Linked DNA regions of Homo sapiens: region 1 is linked to region 2. The links come from fine-mapping of genetic effects on gene expression. A gene starts in region 2. The other region holds a variant in brackets. All regions are shown on one strand. Distances are from middle to middle.

Region 1 (5,378 bases), 51 kb before region 2:
AGGAGATTAAAAAAAAAAATCCTATCTACAGTCTGTATTTTCCAAACTTTCTAGTCCATTCAACCTCCCAATGAATTATTTTTACTCAGATGTCTCACAGGCCCTTCTCAGCACATTGGCAACCAACGTTTCCCAGACTGAATTCGTGATTATTTCTCTCCAAAGCAGATGTTTATACTAGTTCTCACCCCAATAAATGATACTAACATCTTCCACGACCCCTTTCACCAAACTCCTATGTGGGTCTGTGATTAAATGTCCCTTCCTCAGGGTGGCCCTTCTGGAGACCCTTGGTCTACCTTAGGTTGCCTCCCGTTTTACCCTTTCAAAGCCCCTCTATTTTTCTTTCAGTCTTTTTTTTTGGCCAGGCACGGTGGCTCATGTAGGTAATCCCAGCACTGTGGGAGGCTGAGGTGGGCAGATCATCTGAGGTCAGGAGTTGCTGACCAGCTTGGCCGAAATGGTGAAACCCCATCTTTACTAAAAATACCAACCAGGCGCGGTGGTGAGCACCTACAGTCCCAGCTACTCAGGAGGCTGAGACAGAAGAATTGCTTGAACTGGGGAGGCAGAGGCTGCAGTGAGCCGAGATTAGGCCACTGCACTCCAGCCTGGGCAACAGAGTGAGACTCCGTCTCAAAAAAAAAAAGAAAAAGAAAAAGAAAAAGAAAAGGTGGAAGGGGCTTGGCCTAGACCTTAGCATGAGCCACAGTCCTTGGCTTGGTTCTTCCCTTCCTACAGGTAAGACCCAATGAGTATTTTAACCACTACGATAACTCCACGTTTGTCCTTTGGACAAAAGAAACATCACTGTGTTTGCTGAGAATCACAAGAATTTCAGTAGAATACAATTTAACGGCAGTAAGAGCGACCAAGAGGAGTAAGCCAAGGTCTCTGCTGGTGCGTGCGCTCCTGTTCTGGCCACAGCTACAAAGCAGGCACTGTGTGCTGTCCTTCATGGAAGACGCCTGTGTTACCCACCACAAACCAGCACCCTCCTCACCCTCAACCAAGGCCTTTAAGTGCCATCTATTTTAGGATCCTGCGGGGAGAACGCTGGGAGCTGTCAGTAGCTGCCCACTCTCTTCTGAGGGGGCACTGCTGTGTTCCCGGACTCTCTACAGACCTTACGTCCTATCACTGGTAACTGAGCCACCTGGGGGATGGATGGTCGTGTGACCTGTCCCAAGTTGGAAAGCAAATCAGGAAGGAGCAGCATTAGAATGCATCTTTCACACTCCTGCATTCCACAGTAGAAGGTATTACACTCCATGTTTTTACGGTCAAAGCAGAACTTCTCTGCTTCTCATCTATCTATTATTTCTTTTCATTTAGTCCGTCACGATGAGCAAATACCCATCTATTTATCTTCACCCTAATAAATTCCTTAGCAATCATAAACCATCCCAATTTCCACAAGCTGAACTGTTCATTCTGTTACCATGGGAAGATGTAGTCAAGAGGTGTGACCCCAACAGGAAGACCAAGTAGAGTACCTTTCGGGTGATTGCATAGTGTCCTTTGAGCTCGTGCAGGGCCCACTTGATGTCCTGACTACTGAGCACTTTGAAGTCGGCCATGAGGAGGTCAGCAGCTTGGATGAAGCAGCGCTGGTCAAGAGGGGTCAATTTAGAATAGTCAAAAAAGTCTATTTTAGGCAACTGAAATGAGAGAGAAGCATAAAATCAGAGGCCAGGCAGTACATTTCCCATACAGGGGAAATCATTTTAAGAATTACATGTGTAGAAAAGAATAACATTTGTTCTAATTACTCTATAAGGAAGTTACCAGCCCTATAAGACAGATGAGAAAACGGTGGCTCAGAGAGGTTAAACAAACCTGTCTGGAGCCGACAGACTAGTTTTACTACTAAAGAAGTATAGTTGGGGATTTAAACCAATCTTACAGCCATCTTCTTTCCATACCATATTTACGAACAACTATTTTTTTTCTATTACAGAATACGTAAGAGAGACAGTCAAAGAATCTATGGGGAGTTGGAAGATCAAGCAACAGATCTTAATAAAGTTAGTTCTCAACCATACTTGACCATATAACACACTAAATGCCAGTTTAGATCACAAATAATGACAATGATTGAAGTTTTTAAAAACCAAACTGTTTACATCTTGATATGAGATCTGGTTAAACAGATGTATAGTATACGCTGTATACAAATCTCACATCAAAAGAAAAAAGATATTCCACTCTGGGTAATGACCTGCATGCTGAAGTACTTAGAGGGAAGTGTACTCATGTTTTTGCAATTTACTTTGAAATGCATTATCATGAAATGAAACATAACAAAGTTGTGCTGATGGACAGACAGAGGACATATGTATGATAAAGAGGATACAGTAAACTGTTAACTAGTACCAGTGGTAGGTATATAAATGATCAACGTAAAATATTTCAATTTTTCTGTAGGTTTGAAAATTTTCATAATAAAATGTTAAGAGTTTTGGCCAATTCTTGTTTTGCTTTAGGAATTTGCTTTGTAGGATTAAAGATATGGAGAATTCGTTCAATTCTTTGTGGGAAAAGGAAGATAAGAATTACAAGGAAAGATAGAAGTTAAAGACAGACAGAATTCAAAGTGGCTCAGACTGGGAGATCGCACTGAAGTATAGATATATTCTGAAATCCTATGTCCCTCGGCTAGTCTTTAAAAACTTGTCCCAACAAAGCACTTTCTTCCCACAGAGATAACAACAACAACAACAACAACAAAGCACAGCATTTCCAGGCAGTGACTGCAAAACATGAACATGACACTTGCCTTTGTCTCATCTTGGCTGGCCAGCAGACTGCTACTGGGATTTATAATGATTCTGTCTTCTCTCTTTGGATAATCTGGGTTTTCCAGAAGAAAATTACAAAGTCTGCA[G/A]AAACAAATGATGTTACTTTCATACTGCTTCCAAATCCCACACCTGCCCATTGCTTCAAATGCAATGGTTGAAGAATATAGTCCTTAGTCACACATTACAACTGGCCTATCAAGAAATTAAGATGTTTGTAGCCCAGAAAAACTAAACCAATAAACAAACAACTGCACTGAATTTCTATCTTTGTGAAAGACAAAAAAATTTAAAAAGCAATGAACATACTGATTAAGGCAAACTCCTCTGAAGTTTATGTATCAATTGGGTGTTAATGTAATGAAGTCACTGAAACTATTATTGGTTAAACTACAAAACTGGAAAATTTTAAGAAAAGCAGCTACTCTTTGTCGAGAAAACTATGAACAAGTAAGAAGTGGAAAACTGTGTGTTCACATTTACAGTAAAAAACAGTCTGCTAAGAGATGTAATAAATGAAATATAAAAGACCTTCTGTTAATTCATTAATACTTTTTATACCCCTGTGGTAACATAAATCTCTATGGTAATAATAAAGCTCTATGAGCCATTGAGTTACACGTGGTTTATTTAGCTAGCTGCCAAGCTAGACTGATGAACAGATCATGTTTTCCTATGAACAGACTCTCTTCACACAAAACCCACTAGCTTTGTCTATTATCACCATGAAATACTTCCAAAGTAAGGCTATATAGAGTGAGATAACACACACTGATGTATCACCACCCAGACCCAACACATGTTAACTATCCAGGCTCTTCACAGTCAAATCAGACAACCACCTTGGAACAACTGCACAGTAGTGCAGACAGAGTGGGTGGGGTACAGCTCTAGCCACATTCAGTAGCAAGGAAGCTTCTTTGCTCGGAGGGTAATGGGGACTTCCCCTTTTCTCTGTTCTTTCTCTTGCTCCAGTAGATTTCTAAGATGACCTCCTAGGTGCTATACCTGCAGTTCTCACACACTTCCCTTTCTACTGGTTCTCTTTTGCCAGATGTCAATAGTAAGGCCTGTAATAGTAGAACAGGAGGTCTGGCAGAAAGAGGGTAGAGAAAAAGTGCTCAGCTCTGCTCCTTTTCTCATCCAGGTGCCAGTGTTTGGGGACCGGTTTGGAGAGGTTCATTGATTCTGCAGCCCCCGCCGGGGACCCACGTCAAAGCCTTCTCCCTCATCCTGACATCTCAATGCATTTCCCTTTGCCGTTACTTCAGGAGTCCCATATACTCTTCATCTCTAAGCTCCCCGCTTCCCTACCACCACAGCCTGCCCAGTCCACGGAACACAACGCCTGAGGCCCAAAGAGAGGAAAAAAAGCAGCAAACTCCTCCTATTACAGAGGGCGACAAGAATTCAGAGTACATTTTCCTATAAAACCATTGTCATCAGTGGTAATTCTCCATCCTAGAATTCACTGGTGTGCACTGAGGTTATGCAAACCTTTGAAGGCTGACCTGAGAATTAGCCACCAGCAAAAATCGCGTCTGTAGGGAAAGGCCTGAGTTCCAGACAACTCATTACATGTGCATATTTGATGTGGCGACAAACCAGACACGGACTAGCTTTAAAATGGTCTGTTTTTACGTGTTTTCTCAAGTAAATGATACATAAATACACCTCTACATGAAATACAGATGGAACAGTAGATATGATTTCTTGAAAAAACAAAACATGTTTGAGAGGTTCATCTCTCCCCAATTCATTTTATATTTGCAACAATATTAAGAACTTCAAATACTGAAATGCTACAGACATGAAGTTCCACATGACAGAAATCAGAAGCTCTCACTATAAACTGTCAAAATTCATTTCTAGTTTAATCCCTTCATTATGTTTACCAACACAACTCTTCTGGAGGTTAAGTGACATTTGGAGGCACAGAAAATGAAGGACAAAGTTTTTCTTCTACAGAAACAAGTGGTAGCCTCTGTTCTAATATCTGCACCCTGGGGCAAAAGCAGTGGGGAAGCCTGTCGGACTTCAATCTGCCCACCTCTTCATATGACCTCATGTTTGAGCTGATCTGACATGCTAGCAGTTCTAGAGAAGTCACTCCTGCAAAGTAAGCCAGGCTAGTACTCCAACCTTTCAACCCTTAGATAGTTGTTGCTGCCTTCATCCAACTGAAGCTGACCACGTGTGAGTGAAAGGTCTAAGTTAACCAGCCAAAGTAGATTACCTGCCATGTGGTTCTCTAATGAATAGGCTTCCTGCTTAAAATGGCCAGACGGTTCCATCTGAAGGCCATTTAAAGATGCACATAAAGCAACTGAGACTGAGCTACAACAAAATCCCAGCCTGCTCAACTCAGCTTTGGGCCTTATTTCCAGTTTCCATTAACATTTTAGTTTAGTTGTGGAGTTAACACTGTCCTAGGAGTCCAGAGAATAATGGAAAGGAAAGCAGTGTCAGGAAAACAAGACTGGCTTGAAAAGATGCAATACAATGACTGTACATTCCCTTGCTTTTTGGATTTCACGAGAATTTTAATGTGTTTAAGGATCAGTGTTTGTTTCTGAGTGA
Region 2 (5,378 bases):
AGGAAACTATGTGTAATTTTGGTCTCCTCTGCTAAAACTTAAGTTCCAAGAAGGCAGAACCAAAGTGTCACTTGATCCCAAAGCCCCAGGACATAGCATATCGGATGGCACAGTAGATGATCTTCAATAGTAGATGTACTTTCAGAATAAATAGCACTCACTAATTATAGAAGGATAATTAGTGGCATGAACTCTGGGTCCAAACTGAGTTCAAGTTCCACGCTGACCCTTACAAGTTTTGGGACTAGATATTTTTCAGCACCTCAGTTTCTTTTTTTAAAATTATTATTATTTTTGAGACGGAGTCTCGCTCTGTCACCCAGGCTGGAGTGCAGTGGCACAATCTCGGATCACTGCAACCTCCGCCTCCCGAGTTCATGTGATTCTCCTGCCTCAGCCTCCCCAGTAGCTGGGATTACAGGCGCACGCCATCACACCTGGCTAATTTTTGTATTTTTAGTAGAGACGGGGTTTCACCATGTTGGCCAGGCTGGTCTCGAACTCCTGACCTTAGGTGATCTGCCCGCCTCGGCCTCCCAAAGTGCTGGGATTACGGGCGTGAGCCACACCATTCCCAACTATGTTCTATTATCTTTAACAATAATGCAAATATAATGATATCAGGTATGAGAATGAATTATGTCTCTAAAGAGCTAGAATATAGCAATGCCTAGAATTTTGTAAACACATTAAATAGTAGCTGGTAGTAGAATCAGCAAATACCAGCTCTCTCAACTATCCTATTCATCAACTTTCGATCTGCCTCACTCACACCTAACCCTTCTTTATCAGATTTCTCCACAGGGGCTTCAGGAGTTCTCTTTTATTAGCTGCTGCTGCTCTAATCAGGGTAAAAATCTAAAGCCTCGAATGAGGTTTGCCAGGGGGTCCAAAATCTGGCCCAGACTCTCCAGGCATTTCCTCAAATCCACCACTACTCCCCACACCCCAGGCGCAATAAATTATGAAATACAAAACCAAGGCAAAGCCAGGCCATGTATTAGCCTTCTTCCTTAAAGCAAGCCGACTAAATTGAGATGTTTCATAGAATCTTCCCGCTTCTCTCCCTTCTCAGCGCGTAAAGAATGTTCTGGCAGAGCACGGTGGCTAAAGCCTGTAATTCTTGTGCTTTGGGAGGCTGAGGGTCACTTAAACCCAGGAGTTGGGCAGCACAGCTAGACTCCGTCTCTTAAAAAAAAAAAAAAAAAAAAAAGTTAGCCGAGCGTGGTGGTGCGCGCCTGTAATTCCAGCTACTCGGGAGGCTGAGGCAGGAGAATTACTTGAAGCTGGCAGGCGGAGGGTGCAGTGGGCAGAGATGGCACCACTGCACTTTAGCCTGGGAAATACAGCCAGACTCCGCCTCAAAAAAAAAAAAAAAATGCTCAATGAATGGGCTGGGGTGGGTGGGGCAGAGAGGAGCTGACGGGACATACTACATCTAAAACGCCACTGTTTCCGAGGGACGCGGATATGCTCTGGTCCCCCACCTACATCCCATTCAGTAAACAAAGGTACCCACCGAAACATACAGCAGCACAAACCCATTTTTATAAGACCCTGTGCCTGACTATTGCAGGAAGATGGAGGACAAACAACAGCTGGAGAATAGATGAGCTGATGTTTGGCTCCTAACCTCTAAAACAATGCCAACCCAGCCCCTTCCAGGAGTAACAGCTTGAAAACAATACATGGCATTTAGATAGTTTTTAGCATTCCTGGCAATTCCGTTACTAATTCATGGGTCTTCCTCACAAGGGAAGAAACCCCATTTTTGAGGCACAGGCCCACCAGGGCAAAATGACCTGGCCAGGCTGGAGCCAGGTGCATGTGAGGGCCACTGTGAGGCCCTCTGCTCTGCTCACCCTCTACGTCACAGTGCTTCTTCTGTAGGTGAACGTGTGGGTTTTCAGCCAGGGCGCTTCTTACTGAAGGGCCCGAGGGTCCCGGAGAACATATCTGAAACGTCTTTTGAAAAGACTGTAGCACTTTGGGAGGCCGAGGCGGAGGGATCACCTGAGGTCAGACGTTAGAGACCAGCCTGGCCAACACGGAGAAATCCCGTCTCTACTAAAAATACAAAAATTAGCTGGACGTGGTGGCAAATGCCTGTAATCCCAGCTGAGGCAATCCCTGTGAGGCTGAGGCAGGAAAATCGCTTGAATCCGGGAGGCAGAGCTTGCAGTGAGCCGGGATCGCGCCACTGCACTCCAGCCTGGGCAACAGAGCAAGACTCCGTCTCAAAGAAAAGGAGAAAAAAAAAAAAGTAAAAGAAAAAAGAACGTTCTCTTTGCACGATCTAAGTACCTAGGACAGCTGCTACCCAGGCCCTTAGGGATTTACAGAGCCCTGTCGGATTTGTCAGAAATTTCTGTAACCCGCACGCCGCGCACGCTCCAGGGTTGGTTGCAAGTGGCCCAGAGTCTTGGATCCCTGGTCCTGTTCCACCGGGAGCAGAACCACCTCGACGCGGGGACAGCGGCCTCGCTCGCTGCCCAGCGCCCGGACACCCGAGCCGGGCCAGCCCCCAGCGCCCCGCAGAAGGGTTTGACGCACTTGCGGCGCCCTCGCGAGTGCCGGGTGACAGTCGCCAACTTTCGCGGAACACGCGCTCCAGATGTGAGGGAAGAGGAGGAAAAACGCCGCCCGCCTGGGCTGGGGTTCACAGGCACGGCCCGCCTCCCGCCGCTCCTCCAGGCCGCGCTCGGGTGCACGGACACCGCCTCCGCGGCGGCCTCGGGCCCGGGGGAGGGAAGCGCGGTCTCCCGGGCTGTTGCCCTCGCGCAGCAGACCCGAGGGGCCGGCCCGCGAAACTTCGCGAAGTGGCGAGAGGGGGCCACCCGGCCGCTCAGCGCCTTTGTCGCTCCAGCCTCGCCACCGCACCGGGCTCGAGACGCCCAGCCCAGCCCCTTGGCCCGATCCCGCCCGGGCCTCGGCCCGCGCCCCTCAGCTCGGCGGCCCTCACGGCCCGCGCCCCCGCCCCCACCCCCGGAGCTCCACAGAGGCGCCCCTCAGAGAGGCCGCGTCGCCTCACAGACCCGCCCAGGAGCTCGAGCGCGCCCCGCAGCCGACACTCACTCGTCACTCAAGTCGCCGGCTAGCCAGGCAGGTTCGGCGGCCTTCGCTACCGCGCCGCTTACTCCTCAGAAGCCGCAGCTGCGAGCTCCGTGGCAGCCGCTGCACTCCTTCCGGCCCTGCCGCGGCGTCACCTCGCGCCTGCGCACAGCGCCCCCTCCCGACTAAGGACAGGAAGAACCATAGAGGCACTCCGGGTACTGCGGAGGAGGGACCGGGGGGCTCACCATAGAGAGGGCCGCCTAGTCGCGCCTGCATCCGGGCTCTCCGCCTGCGGAGACTTGACTCCCCCACGAGGCAGGAGGGTGAAAGGAAAGGAGACCCCCATATCCGACCCCACAAGGAGCCACCATCTCCCCAGAGCTGAAAAGGGTATGGGGCAGGTGGTTGTGGATGTTTACTCGATATCTACTGATTTGCCCTAATTCGTTTGGCAAGTCATTCATTCATTCTGCAAATATATTCTGCGGATTTCCTGTGGGCCACACACTGTTCTAGGAATTGGGGAAATTAAGAGTAAAGTGGGTCCCATGGCTGGGCACAGTGGCTCACGCCTGTAATCCCAGCACTTTGGGAGGCCAAGGCGGGTGGATCACTTGAGGTCAGACGTTGGAGACCAGCCTGGCCAACATGGTGAAACCCGTCTCTACCAAAAATAAAAAAATTAGCCAGGCATGGTGGCGGATGCCTGTAATCCCAGCTACTCAGGAGGCTGAGGCGGGAAAATCACTTGAACCTGGGAGGCGGAGGTTGTAGTGAGCCAACATGGCGCCCCTGCACTCCAGCCTGGGCAACAGAGCAACCCTCCATCTCGAAAAAAAAAAAAAGTAAAATGTGTTCCTGGCCTCAGGAAGTTTAGGTTTTAGTGAGCAAGTGAATAACTGACTAAAATACTGCTCCTGCTGGGCACAGTGGCTCATGTCCATAATCCCCGCGCTTTGGAAGGCCAAGGCAGGAGGATCGCTTGAGGCCAGGAGTTCAAGACCAGCCTTAGCAAAATAGCAAGACCCCAACTCTTAAAATAATTGCTGGCCAGGCGTGGTGGTTCACGCCTGTAATCCCAGCACATTGGGAGGCCGAGGCAGGCAGATCACTTGAGGTCAGGAGTTCGAGACCAGCCTGGCCACCATGGTGAAACCCCGTCTCTACTAAAAATACAAAAATTAGCTGGGCATGGTGGTGCGTGCCTGTAATCCGAGCTACTCGGGAGGCCGAGGCACAAGAATTGCTTGAACCGAGGAGGGGGAGGTTGTAGTGCAGTGATTATGCCACTGCACTTCAGCCTGGGTAACAGAGTGAGACTGTGTCTCAAAAAAAAAAAAATTGCCAAGTACACCTTCAAGTAGAGATATCAAGTCAGTAATTAGATAAATGAGTCTGGGCTGGGCATAGTGGCTTATACCTGGAATCCGAACATTTTGGGAAATGGAGGTGGGAGGATGGCTTGAAGCCAGGAGTTTGAGACGATCCTGGGCAATAGAGTAAGACCCCATCTTTACAAAAATAAAAATTAGCCGGGCATGGTGGTGCGCACCTATAGTCCCAGCTACTCAGGAGACTGAGGTGGGAGGATTTTTTTGTTTTGTTTTGTTTTGTTTGTTTTGTTTTTTTGGACAGAATCTCACTCTGTCAGCCAGGCTGGAGTGCGGTGGCACGATCTTGGCTCACTGCAACCTCCACCTTCTGGGCTCAAGCGATTCTCCTGCCTCAGCCTCCTGAGTAGCTGGGATTACAAGCATGTGCCACCACGCCCGGCTAATTTTCGTATTTTCAGTAGAGACAGGGTTTCACCATGTTGGCCAGGCTGGTCTTGAACTCCTGACCTCAGGTAATCTACCCACCTCGGCCTACCAAAGTGCTGGAATTACAGGAGCGAGCCACTAAACCCGGCCAGAGGATTGTTTGAGCCCAGGAGTCCGAGGCTGCTGTGAGCTATGATTGCACTGCTGCACTCCAGCCTGGATGACAGAACAACAGCCTGTCTCAAAAGAAGCAAACAAAAACAAAACAGGGAAATGAGAGGAACAATAGTCTTGATGCGGCAATGAGTGTTCCTTCTCTAAGACAGTAGAGTGTGGCTTATGGGGGCTTGCATGGGACAGAAAAAGACCACTACTCATAGTGCTTTGGGGAACAGTGTCCTGAGGGAATAGTCATGTTTCAGTGAAGTAGAAATTGAAGGGCTGCTTACAGAACAGGACGAGGATCTAGGGATCTTACAGATGTCAGGCCCTGAGTTAGAGGGTGCAGTGCATGGGAGACATTAGAGGGTGAACAGGAGAGAGAGTTTAAGATAGATACTTACC

Direction of the effects. Positions count from the first base shown, and alleles are read on the strand shown. Sizes are in standard deviations (SD) of each study's normalised expression.
With allele A in place of G in region 1, the expression in testis of the gene that starts at base 3,198 in region 2 is higher (small effect, 0.30 SD a copy in GTEx).

Evidence for each region. PIP is the estimated chance that this variant, and not a neighbour inherited with it, causes the effect. A credible set is the group of variants that fine-mapping cannot tell apart.
Region 1: its variant is the best candidate, but not a certain one, in a credible set for the expression of RNF216 in testis (GTEx, PIP 0.81).

The regions. Positions count from the first base shown.
Region 1 is chr7:5,727,936-5,733,313 of GRCh38, forward strand. RNF216 (ring finger protein 216) reads right to left here. Exons shown (of 17, transcript NM_207111.4): 6 at 2,780-2,882; 7 at 1,497-1,661. Among named protein-coding and RNA genes, the nearest start is that of MIR6874, 19 kb to the left of the region's middle. The variant G/A (reference allele first, on the strand shown) is at 2,888.
Region 2 is chr7:5,778,466-5,783,843 of GRCh38, forward strand. RNF216 (ring finger protein 216) reads right to left here and starts at 3,198. Exons shown (of 17, transcript NM_207111.4): 1 at 3,076-3,198. RefSeq lists a silencer at 2,607-2,996.